2 separate regions of the Homo sapiens genome follow, and region 2 is linked to region 1. The links come from fine-mapping of genetic effects on gene expression. A gene starts in region 1. The other region holds a variant in brackets. All regions are shown on one strand. Distances are between the middles of the regions.

Evidence for each region.
Region 2: its variant is fine-mapped to the expression of KLF7 in whole blood (INTERVAL, PIP above 0.99).

Annotation. Positions count from the first base shown.
Region 1 is chr2:207,163,032-207,168,406 of GRCh38, forward strand. KLF7 (KLF transcription factor 7) reads right to left here and starts at 2,917. Exons shown (of 4, transcript NM_003709.4): 1 at 2,436-2,917. The coding sequence starts at 2,537. It overlaps MIR7845 (microRNA 7845), which reads left to right and starts at 3,369; the gene lies at 3,369-3,467. RefSeq lists enhancers at 510-1,218, 1,219-1,927, 2,529-2,628, 2,636-3,344, 3,345-4,052 and 1 more and silencers at 3,119-3,758, 4,379-4,428.
Region 2 is chr2:207,078,858-207,084,232 of GRCh38, forward strand. KLF7 (KLF transcription factor 7) reads right to left here. Exons shown (of 4, transcript NM_003709.4): 4 at 1-2,407. The coding sequence ends at 2,356. Among named protein-coding and RNA genes, the nearest start is that of MIR2355, 29 kb to the right of the region's middle. The variant A/ATGTG (reference allele first, on the strand shown) is at 2,204.

The DNA of each region.
Region 1 (5,375 bases):
ATATCACCATCACCACCCCTTATACTCAGAAGCAGCAAGACGGTTTTGGGAGGGGGAAGAAGGAAGGGCTAGAGGTTAAAGGTTTTGTCATCAGTGTAAACCTATGGTCCTAGTCGCCTTTATATAGAGCAGTTGTGATTACGGAGTCCAGAACATAAAGCTCACTGGAGTGATATATTGTTTATTAGTGCTTCCCCACAAGCTATGCATCAGCATTGGCTATAAGCATGACGCTGAATAAGTTGGCTAAGGGTTTTAAGGTGAGAGTGGCTGGCAGTTGGAGAGGGTTAAGGCAAAAAATGAGGGGGTTCCGAGGGGTGAAAAATCCTTTGCCTGTAGAAACTAAACTAGAGCTTCCCTGAATGGGGAGGAGGCAGAGGAGCAGGGGGAGGAGGGGAGAAGGAAGAGCAGAGATGGCTTCTTAGGAAACAATAGATCTAATACATCCTCTAGTTGTCAAACCGATGATGTTTCTTTGCAGATCTAGAGTTTGTCCTGGATGGTCTAGCCAGATCTAGAAAAGCAGGTTTCCTGTGAAGAGACCTTCCTCCAAATCTGGCTTTACTACTCTGAAAACTTGAACCAAAACAAAGTTGCATGATTCATCAGTAGGGAACGTTCTAACAAATAAAGCCAACTTTCTTCCTTCTAACACTGCTTAACAGTTAGTCACAAACAAGGGCTGCCTTGGGCAGGCTGACTAAATCAACAGATTCCCTTCTCTAACCTGTCTAGACAGTTGTTAATATGCAACCGATTCCATACCAGTGGGCTGACAGTGTGAAATGAAGGCTATTTCAGAAGATTTTGGTTTAATTAGCATTGGAAATAAAAGGAAGAAAAAGATCCAGTGAGACCCTTCATGAGACACACTCTCGTTAAGGATAAGGAAAAGGATGCATTGAAGAAAGACTTTATTCTAAAAATATGTGAACTGTGTATGTGTTTACAGAGAGACAGAGTCAAGCATCTGCTAGCGTCCTTGGACAAGAATGCATGTGTGGACACAGAGACACCAGACGCCAATACCTGGAGGAAAACTCACAGCCTCTGACCAGAAGTGAACTAGCAACAATGGTACAGTTAAAGGATCCGCCTTGCCACTCGGCTCCTTATACCAAAAGCCAAACCTCTTTTGCTAAAGCAGAGACTGTTACATCTCAGCCTCAAGCTGGCAAATCCTGCTTTGGATCCCGGCAGAGGAAATTCAGCCGTTCATTAGCCTTAACAAGCTGCTGTCACTAAGCGAAGAAATTACACGAGCAGCCACACACCGAGCCTCTCACAGCCCTCCCCCCAAGGGCAAGCGGGTTTCTCCAGGACGGACTGTACAAGTTCACACTTCCTATGTGCAAATCCGGACTGTCTTCTTGGACTTTCCATGGTGCACACTGTACAATTTTTAAATACCCGTGTCCCCCCGCCCCCACCCACCATCTTTCCTGCAGAATGTCCCCTCAGCAGCTCCTAATCGCTGCTGAAAAAAACCACTGTTTCCGCAGCAGAGCCAGCACTTTCCACTGACCAGCACTTTCTTTATTCCACTTCACAAAGCCCAGTGAACTTGTCACCAGCCCCACTTCATCCTCCCTGGGACGGCTAGCCAACTTGGCATCGGTGCCCTTCAGCATCCTGGGAGTTTCTTAACTAGTCCTCTAAGACAAAGTCAAAGGCATGGAAGCACACATCAGCCTTTGTCCGAGGTTGTGCTGCCTAACTAGAGAAGGACCCTAAACAAAAAAGAGAAACAAGGACACGCATAGAGGGTGTTCTCTTTCTGGAGGGATCACACTGGGAAAACCTACAATTCATTGTCAGCCTCAGCTACATCTTCCCGTCCTCCTTGAGTATCTTTTGTCAGTGGGCTCTTCTCTCTTTTGCCTACCTTCTAATCTCAAAATCAAGCTCCTATTCTTTATTGACACTCGCTAATTACTGAAAAACACTCCGCTTTGCTCCTGCCCACCCTCCCCCGCCCCCCATCCGATGGTCATAAGCACCAGTTGAAACAGATGAACCTGATTTCAGGTATCAAGTGGGTAGAGCTCATGCATGCGAGAACGTGGTCCCTGTCAGCAATCGCTCCTAACACCCCAAACCACCTTCCCACCCGGCTCCTCCGAACCCCAGAAGTTCGGCAGGTCTCTGATAGGGGACAGCAAACCCGACAACGTGTGCGCAGGGATGTGTGTTGGCGACTGAAACGCAGGCAGCTCGCACCGGCTGCTCAGCTCGGCACTCTACGAGGTTAGGGGTGGGTGGAGAGGTAAGCGCAGATGACTGTTTCAGAAAACATTTTCAACAACAGACAGCCAAAAAGGAAGAAAAAAAAGTCAAACAAACAAACAAAAATTTCAACCCAGAGCCCACACCAACGCAGCCCCTGCGTCTCCGCCGCCACCACACGATTTACACAAGTAATTTAAATCATTCACCTGCTGCCAGGTCTCCTCCAGGGATGGTAAAGCTGAGAAGTAGCCGGTGTCGTGGACAAGTTGTAGCTCCTGGAATATACTATAACTAGCCAACACGTCCATGCTGCTGCTGCCGGGCAAAACGGGAGGCGAAACCCTCCCCCGAACACAGTTGGGGCTGTTTGTTTGTCAGTCTGTCTGGCTCACCCCCCAAGAAGGCAGACATCCAGTGGCCCTTTTGTTTTGTTTTGTTTCAGTCAACTAAAAAGGAAAAAAAAAAATCAATGCAGGAGAGGGAGAGAGGAGGTGAGAGAGGAGCGAGTGAGTGGGGTGGATGGAGAGAGGCATCCAGCGTGTACAGTGCAGACGACTGCCAGGAAAAGGGGACTTCTCCACGGGAGTAACAATTCCCTTCCAGGGCTCTAATCACTCCAGCTCGTGGATCAGGAAGGGGGATGCAAACTCACTGACACGAAGCTGCCATCTATTTCTGCAGCGCTGTTCGCTCCTAATGCAATCTTTGCTCTTTATTTTGGGAGGTTGCATTTTTTTCTCTCGCGATCGCTTCTCTTCCCCCCCCTTCCCTTCCCTCCCCACCCCCCACCCCATCCTTGCTAGTTTGTAGTCTTCCCCCTCCCTTTTCTCCTCCTCCTGCTCTTCCCCCTCCCCAAACTCCCTCCCTCCGTTCGGTTCTCCGCGCAGCCGTGGGATCTCGAGGAGGGCGTCCATTAGGCCGCGTGTGACCATGTAAGGTAAACAGGGGGCTCATGAAGTCACTGAGGACCAATGGGGAGCCCGGAGCAGAGCCTGGGGCGGGGCTTGGCCCTGGCGGCGGGCGCGGATTGGCACGCTGCGGATCTCCCTGCTGCCTTACAAGGCGGTGCGAGGCGAGCTATTTTTAGAGGGCTATATAAGGGGGCTGAGGCGGCCGCCCGGCGGCCGGGCAGCGCGAGCGCAAGGGACAGGGAGGGTCGTGGCGACACTCGCGCCAGCTCCCGGGACGGCTGGGCTCGGGCTGGTCGCCGACCTCCGACCCTCCACTAGATGCCTGGCAGAGCCCGGCGCGTCCGGAGCCCGCGCCCCTCAGAGGGAAGGGGTCGCGCGTCGCCGCGGCGGCCCTGAGGCTGACGGTCGGGAGGTGAAAGGCCGGAGTGCGGGGTCAGGACGCCTCCTGGAGGGGGCGCGGCGCAGGGGGCCGCGGGGAAGCCGCCGAGGGCGCGGAGCGGGAAGGAAGGACAGTGGCCACCCCGCCTCCGCCTGGGCACGGGGCAGGGACCCGCGCGAGGCGGTGCCGGGGAGGTCCTCACGTACTCAAAAACAAGCAGAAAAGGCATCCAGGGCCCCTTCCCGAACTCCCCACGGGCTGCCAGGGTGCAGAGAAGAAGCGCCTGAGGAGGAAGTGCCACACAATGGGAGAGAACAAAGGGGAGCGGAGCGAGACCGCGGCCTGCGCCCGCCCCCCGCTTGCGCACAGTCCCCGCCCCGCCCCGCGGGCGCCGCCGCCGCCGCCCTCCCTCCCGCGCCTCCTTCTGACCCCGAGCGAGAGACCTGGTCGGGAGTCCGGCGGCTAGAGTTGATTGCAAGGGGCCTGTTGCTCGACTGTGCGTTAAAGAGGCTAGAGGGAGCCTAGGTAGACGTGGGGCGCAAGCTGGAGCCGGCAGCTTGCGAGGGGGCCTTTACGTGATGAGGCTCACCATGGGGTCTCCAGCGAGGTGTCTGCAGAGCTTCGATGGTGAGAGGAGGAACTCGATTTCTCGTTTTCTGGAGTTGGGATGTAGACATAGAGAGATCTGTTACATCTGAGATGAAAACCCTGCACAATTCACGTTAGGGTTGGCCAATTGTTTGCTTGACCTTAAATGGTTAGTGTGGTTTAAGCTTCCCCAAAATGCGCTGTGAGCTGAGCTTCCACTTTTGGAATGATTGCAGAATTCGGTGCTTAAGAGATGAGAAACTTCGTTCTACCAGTAATGGAAGAAACGCTTCACCTTAATCACCCTCCTTGTCTTTCCCCTCCCTTTGACTATGTAGGACTCGATAACACAACATTTGAAAGATTCTACTCTATGAAATAAGCACAGATTGAAATTCAGTATTTGCCAAGGAATATTAAACATGAATTACTGGGATTGAGGAAAGCCTGATTTATTTACTTGTTAGTGTCTGGAATTCTGTTGGCCAGATTCATAGCATTCATTGTATGAGTATAATTGGAACATTTACTCTAATGTAGATGCAGATGCATCTGCAATTAGATGTGCAAGGACGCTGCCAGCTAACTAGCTGCACGACTTTGAGCGAATTACTGGGTCAGAACTTGTATCTACCCATCTCAGAAACAGAAATAGTGGGATCCGCGTTGTCTAGTTGTTATGAAGAGTCAAAATATCTTTGGTAACTCACCTAGCATAGTATCTGACACTATTAGGTGAATACTAAATATTAGCTATCATTGTCTCCCCACTTGAGCTATGTAAACTAATAGGACCTTTAGGAGAATATACTATTAATAGAATCTTGGAGATAGAGGAAAGGTAGAAACCCCTTGCTAGTTTGTTACAAGGTCTCCCCTTCTCCATGCTCTCCCCTGACCCCCATGCTATTTCAACTGGGGGGATGGGCAGGAACCATTGAGAAACACTAGGGCAAAAAACATGTTCATGAATAATAGGGGAAGGAAAGGAACTTGGGTATAGAAAACTAGAGGCAAAAGGTGAGGCAAGACCAACCATATAATTTGGTACTTGAGACTCAAGTGAACTTATTTTGTGTGTGTTACATTATAACAATTTTTGAATAAAATAGGACATATCGGTTAACGTGAGTTTGAAGATTTTACAAATAATAGTTCCCATTTATTAAGCACTTCGAATGTGCCGTATGCGCATAAACACTTTATATGCAATGTCTCATTTAATCTTAAGGACAGCCCCAAAGTATCCCCAACTTTATGGATGAAGA
Region 2 (5,375 bases), 84 kb before region 1:
CAGAGAACTACGAGATTGTCAGCAAGCAGTGCTCCAGAAATTGTTTTTAAGTCATGTCTAGTTTTAAATCTTTGGAATAAAACTGATTTTTAATACCCTCCAACTAACATACATACAATTGCCTCCGGCAAATGGACAGATTTTGTGTGTGTGTGCGCGTGTGTGTTAACGGGTGTTCTTTCTTTTTTTTTCGTTTTGTATTATTTTGTTTTTTTTTTTGTTTTTGTTTTTGTTTTTTTTGGTCTAAATAGAAAAAAGGAAAAGGAGAAAGTAAATTCTTAGGGCCAGACCTCGAAATGCCCCAAGTGTCCAATTGGCAGCTATAGCATTTGTGAGGAGGTTCCTTTGCCCTCAGACGAGTAGTTTCAACATTTCAGTGAAAACAAAGGTTGCAGAAAGCTGAAAACCCAGATCTTGAAGGTTGCTGTCATATATGTGTTTGTGTTTCTTATATTATTTCCTTTTGACTTCAGTTTTGCATCCCAAATATGTATGGGGTGGCATTTTAACAGTCAATGAGTCAAACAGTCAAAGGAGGACAGGAGGGGAGCCAGCTGGTAGGAGGGAGCAGCAACCGTGTGTGGACCAAGCGCCATTTTTGTTTTATAGACGTGTCTTGAAGGGATGGTCCCAGAATATACAAAATATACAATCTGTCCTAATAACCACCCCGCTTGCTTGCATAGGCCATTTGATGGTCCTAAAGGCAGTCTTTGGAGTTGAGGCCAGTGCCAGCTAGCTAGGAATGCGGGTAGATAGAGACCACTACTGGATGTGTGAGTGTGGCATGACAAGTAAGGACTGTAGACTCCTTTGGAGTCAGCTTGCAGAGTAAATGTGAGGCCTCTGTTAATCCTGGGGGTTCTAGGTCACAAGTCATGGTGGGCCTAGCCAAAAAAAAAAGGAAAGAAAGAAACGTGTCTCTCCTTTTAGACAGCCCATGAGAGAAACACCTCAACCTTTTCCTTAAATGTCAACCCTTCACTCCCACAATGGCGTTTTAAATTGTGTATTGTAACACGTAGGGGAATAGGAGCTCAGTGGGCATGACAGAGAAGACAGGATGATCTTTTGTGAAGCCACTAGACTTGGGAGGCATCCTCAGTTTTCCCCACTCCTGGAAAGAGTGATATTTTTGGCTTTTTGTCAGGTCATAAACCAGAGTTAAATTAAATACGCAGCTGCCCTCTGAGACTAGCGACATCTATGCTGTAACTGGTTATGGGGTAGCAATGACACACAGCACAACGGTTGATCACTATGAGCTGAGGTCATCATGCCTCAAGGAGGATGAGAGAACTGTGATGTCCCATCTGACTGGCTGCTTCGAGAGCTGGACATCCAGGTGCCGAGAGAGTCCTGGAGAGGTTTAGTCCATGGAGAAAAGATAAAACATTTAAGCTTCCAAATAAGCTTTTCAAGTTTTCGTTAGCAAAAACGGAGAGATTAAAAAGAAAAAATCTAGCACTGGCAATAAGGTGAGGCTCAAGGGATATACTGTGATTTATCATCAAGGACTTTATTCTCTTGGCCACTTTGCAGTCATGCTAGAAGTTTCCAGAATCCCTAGTGCATATGGTGTGCAAAAGTCAAAACGTAAGAAAAGAAAACTCCTCCCTTGAGAGTGAAGTCTACAGAAATGCAGGCCAGAAAGGTGTAAGGTGTTATTCCAGTCTGCCGCCGCTAAGGCCGTTGGGATCGACGCGAAAGATCTCAATAGTACTAAGAACCAAAACCAGTCAACAGTTCTGTGAGGAAGTCTGACGCACGGAATAGTAGGACTTTTCACACACAAAGGACAAATAAACCAAGAGTTAATTTTGGCTACCAAACTGCAATTTGGTTTTCTAGGTCATTTTCCCCCAACTATTTAAAAAGAAACATTAGTGCTACACATATGCAACTTTAAGATGCTGGATTCTCCTATCAAGTTGCACTGAGAAGCAAGTGAAATAAGCCCCTCGGACTGCCGTCCACCTGCACAGACGTCACATCCATTTTCTTTGATTTCCATTGGCAACAGCGGGAAATAATTCCAATAGTGCTGAAGTAAGCAGCCAGTCTGCCTTGCTGAGTTCACCTGGTTTCCTTCTTCATCTTCTTCCATCTGGCTAGGGCAAGGCATAAAGAATAGACGTATATATTTTAAATATAGTTGAGTGCATGACAGTGTGTATGTGTGTGGGTCTGTGAGTGTGTGTAT[A/ATGTG]TGTGTGTGTGTGTGTGTGTGTGTACAGAGGTTTATAAGTGAGAACTTTCTTCTGCGAGGCAATGGGTCCCCGCCTGAAGTCCAGCCCCCTGCCTCATGGCGTTTCCTTTAGACACTAGCCGATGCCATGGCAACTCTGGCCTTTCGGTTTTTTAGATATGTCTCTTCATGTGGAGGGCAAGATGGTCAGACCTGGAAAAACACCTAGGAGATATAAACAACAAGGATATTAGAGAACTCCCAGCAAACAGCTTGACTTGCATCACTCCTTAGGAAATGATTTCCCTTACTTTAAACAGAGACAGTGCACATGCATTGAGAAACAGGGCCATGTGTTGGGAAGGTAAGTTTAAGGGACAAAATGTTTGGGTTTAAATCCTATCTCTTCCAATAGCTGTGTGACTCGGAGCACATTAACCTGTCTGTACTTTAATTCCTCCTCAGTAGAGTGGGGATAATTATAGCATTTACCTCATAGGTGGGTTGTGAGGATTAAATGAGATGATCTATGCAAGGTACTTAGAATACGGACTGGCACATCGTAGGATCTCAGTGCATGTTAACTGTTATGATCATAATTGTGATTATTAAAGAAGAATGGGAAAGTGCTTTTGAAACCTGTGTCATGCCTGCATACTGTAAATATAATAAAGAATAATTAGTCTATATCATCAAAGGGTGGAACTTTGAAATTTCAACACCCAGATTTCAACCCTAAACTTTACAATGAAAGCCTAGAAATACTGCTTGTGATACTACTTACAGGCTTATCAGACACTCTATATTCAAGTCAAAAAAAAAAAAAAAAAAGGATGAAGAAGGGTGCTCACAGTTATTGAGTATGTTACGATATGTAGGCACTATGCTAAGGGTTTTCCCAATATCACGCCATCCTCACCAACCCTCCATGGTAAGTATTCTCACGCTTTGTGTGTGTGTGTGTTGGGGGCAGAAAGGAGGGGGGTGAAGGAAACTGAGGCTAAGGTGTTTCTTGGAACCTAAGGCCCATAACTGAGTGCCTTCTTCATGTCAGAGTGGATCCAGTGGTCATCTTCTTTCCTCTTTCCTCTAACACCAGCTATTTGATATTCTCTTGGGTACCAACCCTTCTGCATTCTCATTTGTGTGAGGCTGAAGTTGTGGCCACAGTACTCTGCTAAACAACAGCCATGTGACCTGTAAAGGCCAATGAGAACCAGCCCTGGGACATCTGCTGAAATTATTGGAAGAGAGAAGCTCTCTTTCCACTGGGATCCTGGAGTGACTGGTGTCTATACTGCCCTTGTGGTAAAGAGTTGGCTGGAGAATGAAGTCAACAGAGAAAAAGGGGTTCTGGGGGATAGAAAGAGTCCAGATGATAATATCAGAGAAGCTGGATCCAACGAAGCCTAAAGACAAATCTAATTCTGTTCTTCTTAGTTACCTGAGCGCATAAATACCCTTGGAGGCTAACTGCAGTCTATAACATACAGAAACCTGACAGTATGGGTGTTTCCAAATCCCTGCAGGCTTCAATCTCAGGTTCTGAATGAAATCCCAGTGAAGTCAGCCTACATGACAGCAGTCATTCTGAGCTCTGAGTGTATGCTCTCCCCCTGGATCATTCGCCTGAAACTAGCTGCTTTCTAACCTATGAGAAAGTTCCCAGGCTCCCTGAAGCCTGAGACACCCCTACAGTCCAAAACTCCTGTCAGAATGTTAGCAAGCTACACTGTTCAGGTTAGCAGGGTTTCCTGTTCAGGGCAGGATTTCCCTATGTTTGTTCATTCTTAAAACAAACAAAAAATATCCACCCTTTCCCTTGACCGCAACATTCTCCACACCCCCTGTTTGTGTCCATTCCTTAAATAGGCACATGTGTAGGATAGAACTCCAAGGGAATGAAGTGAAATGGGACAAGAGTAAAACGAAAACCACATAAAAATGCGAAAAGTACAACTGAAAACAATCTAATCCAATAACATGCTGCATAATAACAATTCCAATTATACCCACTTACTTCCAGCCCTGACTTTGTATGAGGAAGATATTTAGATAATCCCTTAGCGATGCCTCTAAAGGGGGTTTGGTTTGCAATAAAACAGTGTCACTAAGTTTTCTTTAAAAACTAGTACTCCATGTCACTGGTACACAGAAAAATCAATACAGCCCGCAGGGAATTTAGCGTCTAACTGGCATAATTCATGTCCTGAGGGTACAACTCAGTATTGCCCACTGCCTGTTCTCTTTCCCTCTCTCCCTCTCTTTCTCCCTGCCTTCTTTCTTCCTTCTTTTTCTCTCTTTCCCTCCTTCTTTTATCCCAACAACCTGGAGAAAGAAGATCCAAGTTGGGACATTCTGTTTGTAGGTATTTCTTTTTTAAATGTAACATCCTTATAAGATCCCTATAAAGAAGGTACCATTCTTATTCCCACTACCAGATGAAACATTCATCAGAAAGAGGATTTGAACACAGGCAGTCTGACGCCAGAGCCCACACTCTTAGTCACATCTGCTTAACCACATTGAGGAGAAGAGAGAACTGGGCTGTCAATTTAAGGAGCTTCTGGTAGGCAGAATAATGCTCCCTCCAAAATGTCTACACTTCATGCCCAGACACTAGGACTATGTTTGGTTACATGATAAAGAATTAAAGTTGTGGATGGAATTAACTTATGAATCAGCTGACATTAAACAGGGAGATTATTCTGGATTGTCTGGTTGGGCTCAATGCCATCACAACGGTTCTTAAAAGTGGGAGAAGGAATTGATAGAACCAGAGAGATGTCAGCATGAGAAGGACTCAACAGCTTTAATGATGGAGGAATAGCATCATGAGCCAAGGAATGTGGGCAGCTTCTAGAAGCTGGAAAAGGAAAGGAAATGGATATTCCCCTAGAGCCTCCAGAACAAAAATGCAGCTCTGCCAAAACCTTGAGTTTAGCCCAGTGAGACTTGTGTTGGACTTCTAACCTAGAAGTTTCTAACCTACAGAACTGTAAGACCATAAACTTGAAAAGTATATAAACATGATACTAAATTTGTGGCAAGTGGTCAAGGCAGCAACTAGAAAATTAATCCTGAGGTTAGGCTGGTCAGGCCTGAGGAGGATGTACCTGTGAGAAGCAACAACGCAGACACCCAGAAGCCTGCCTGTCCAAGAGGAATGCTGGGATTTGAGATGGTAAGGAGT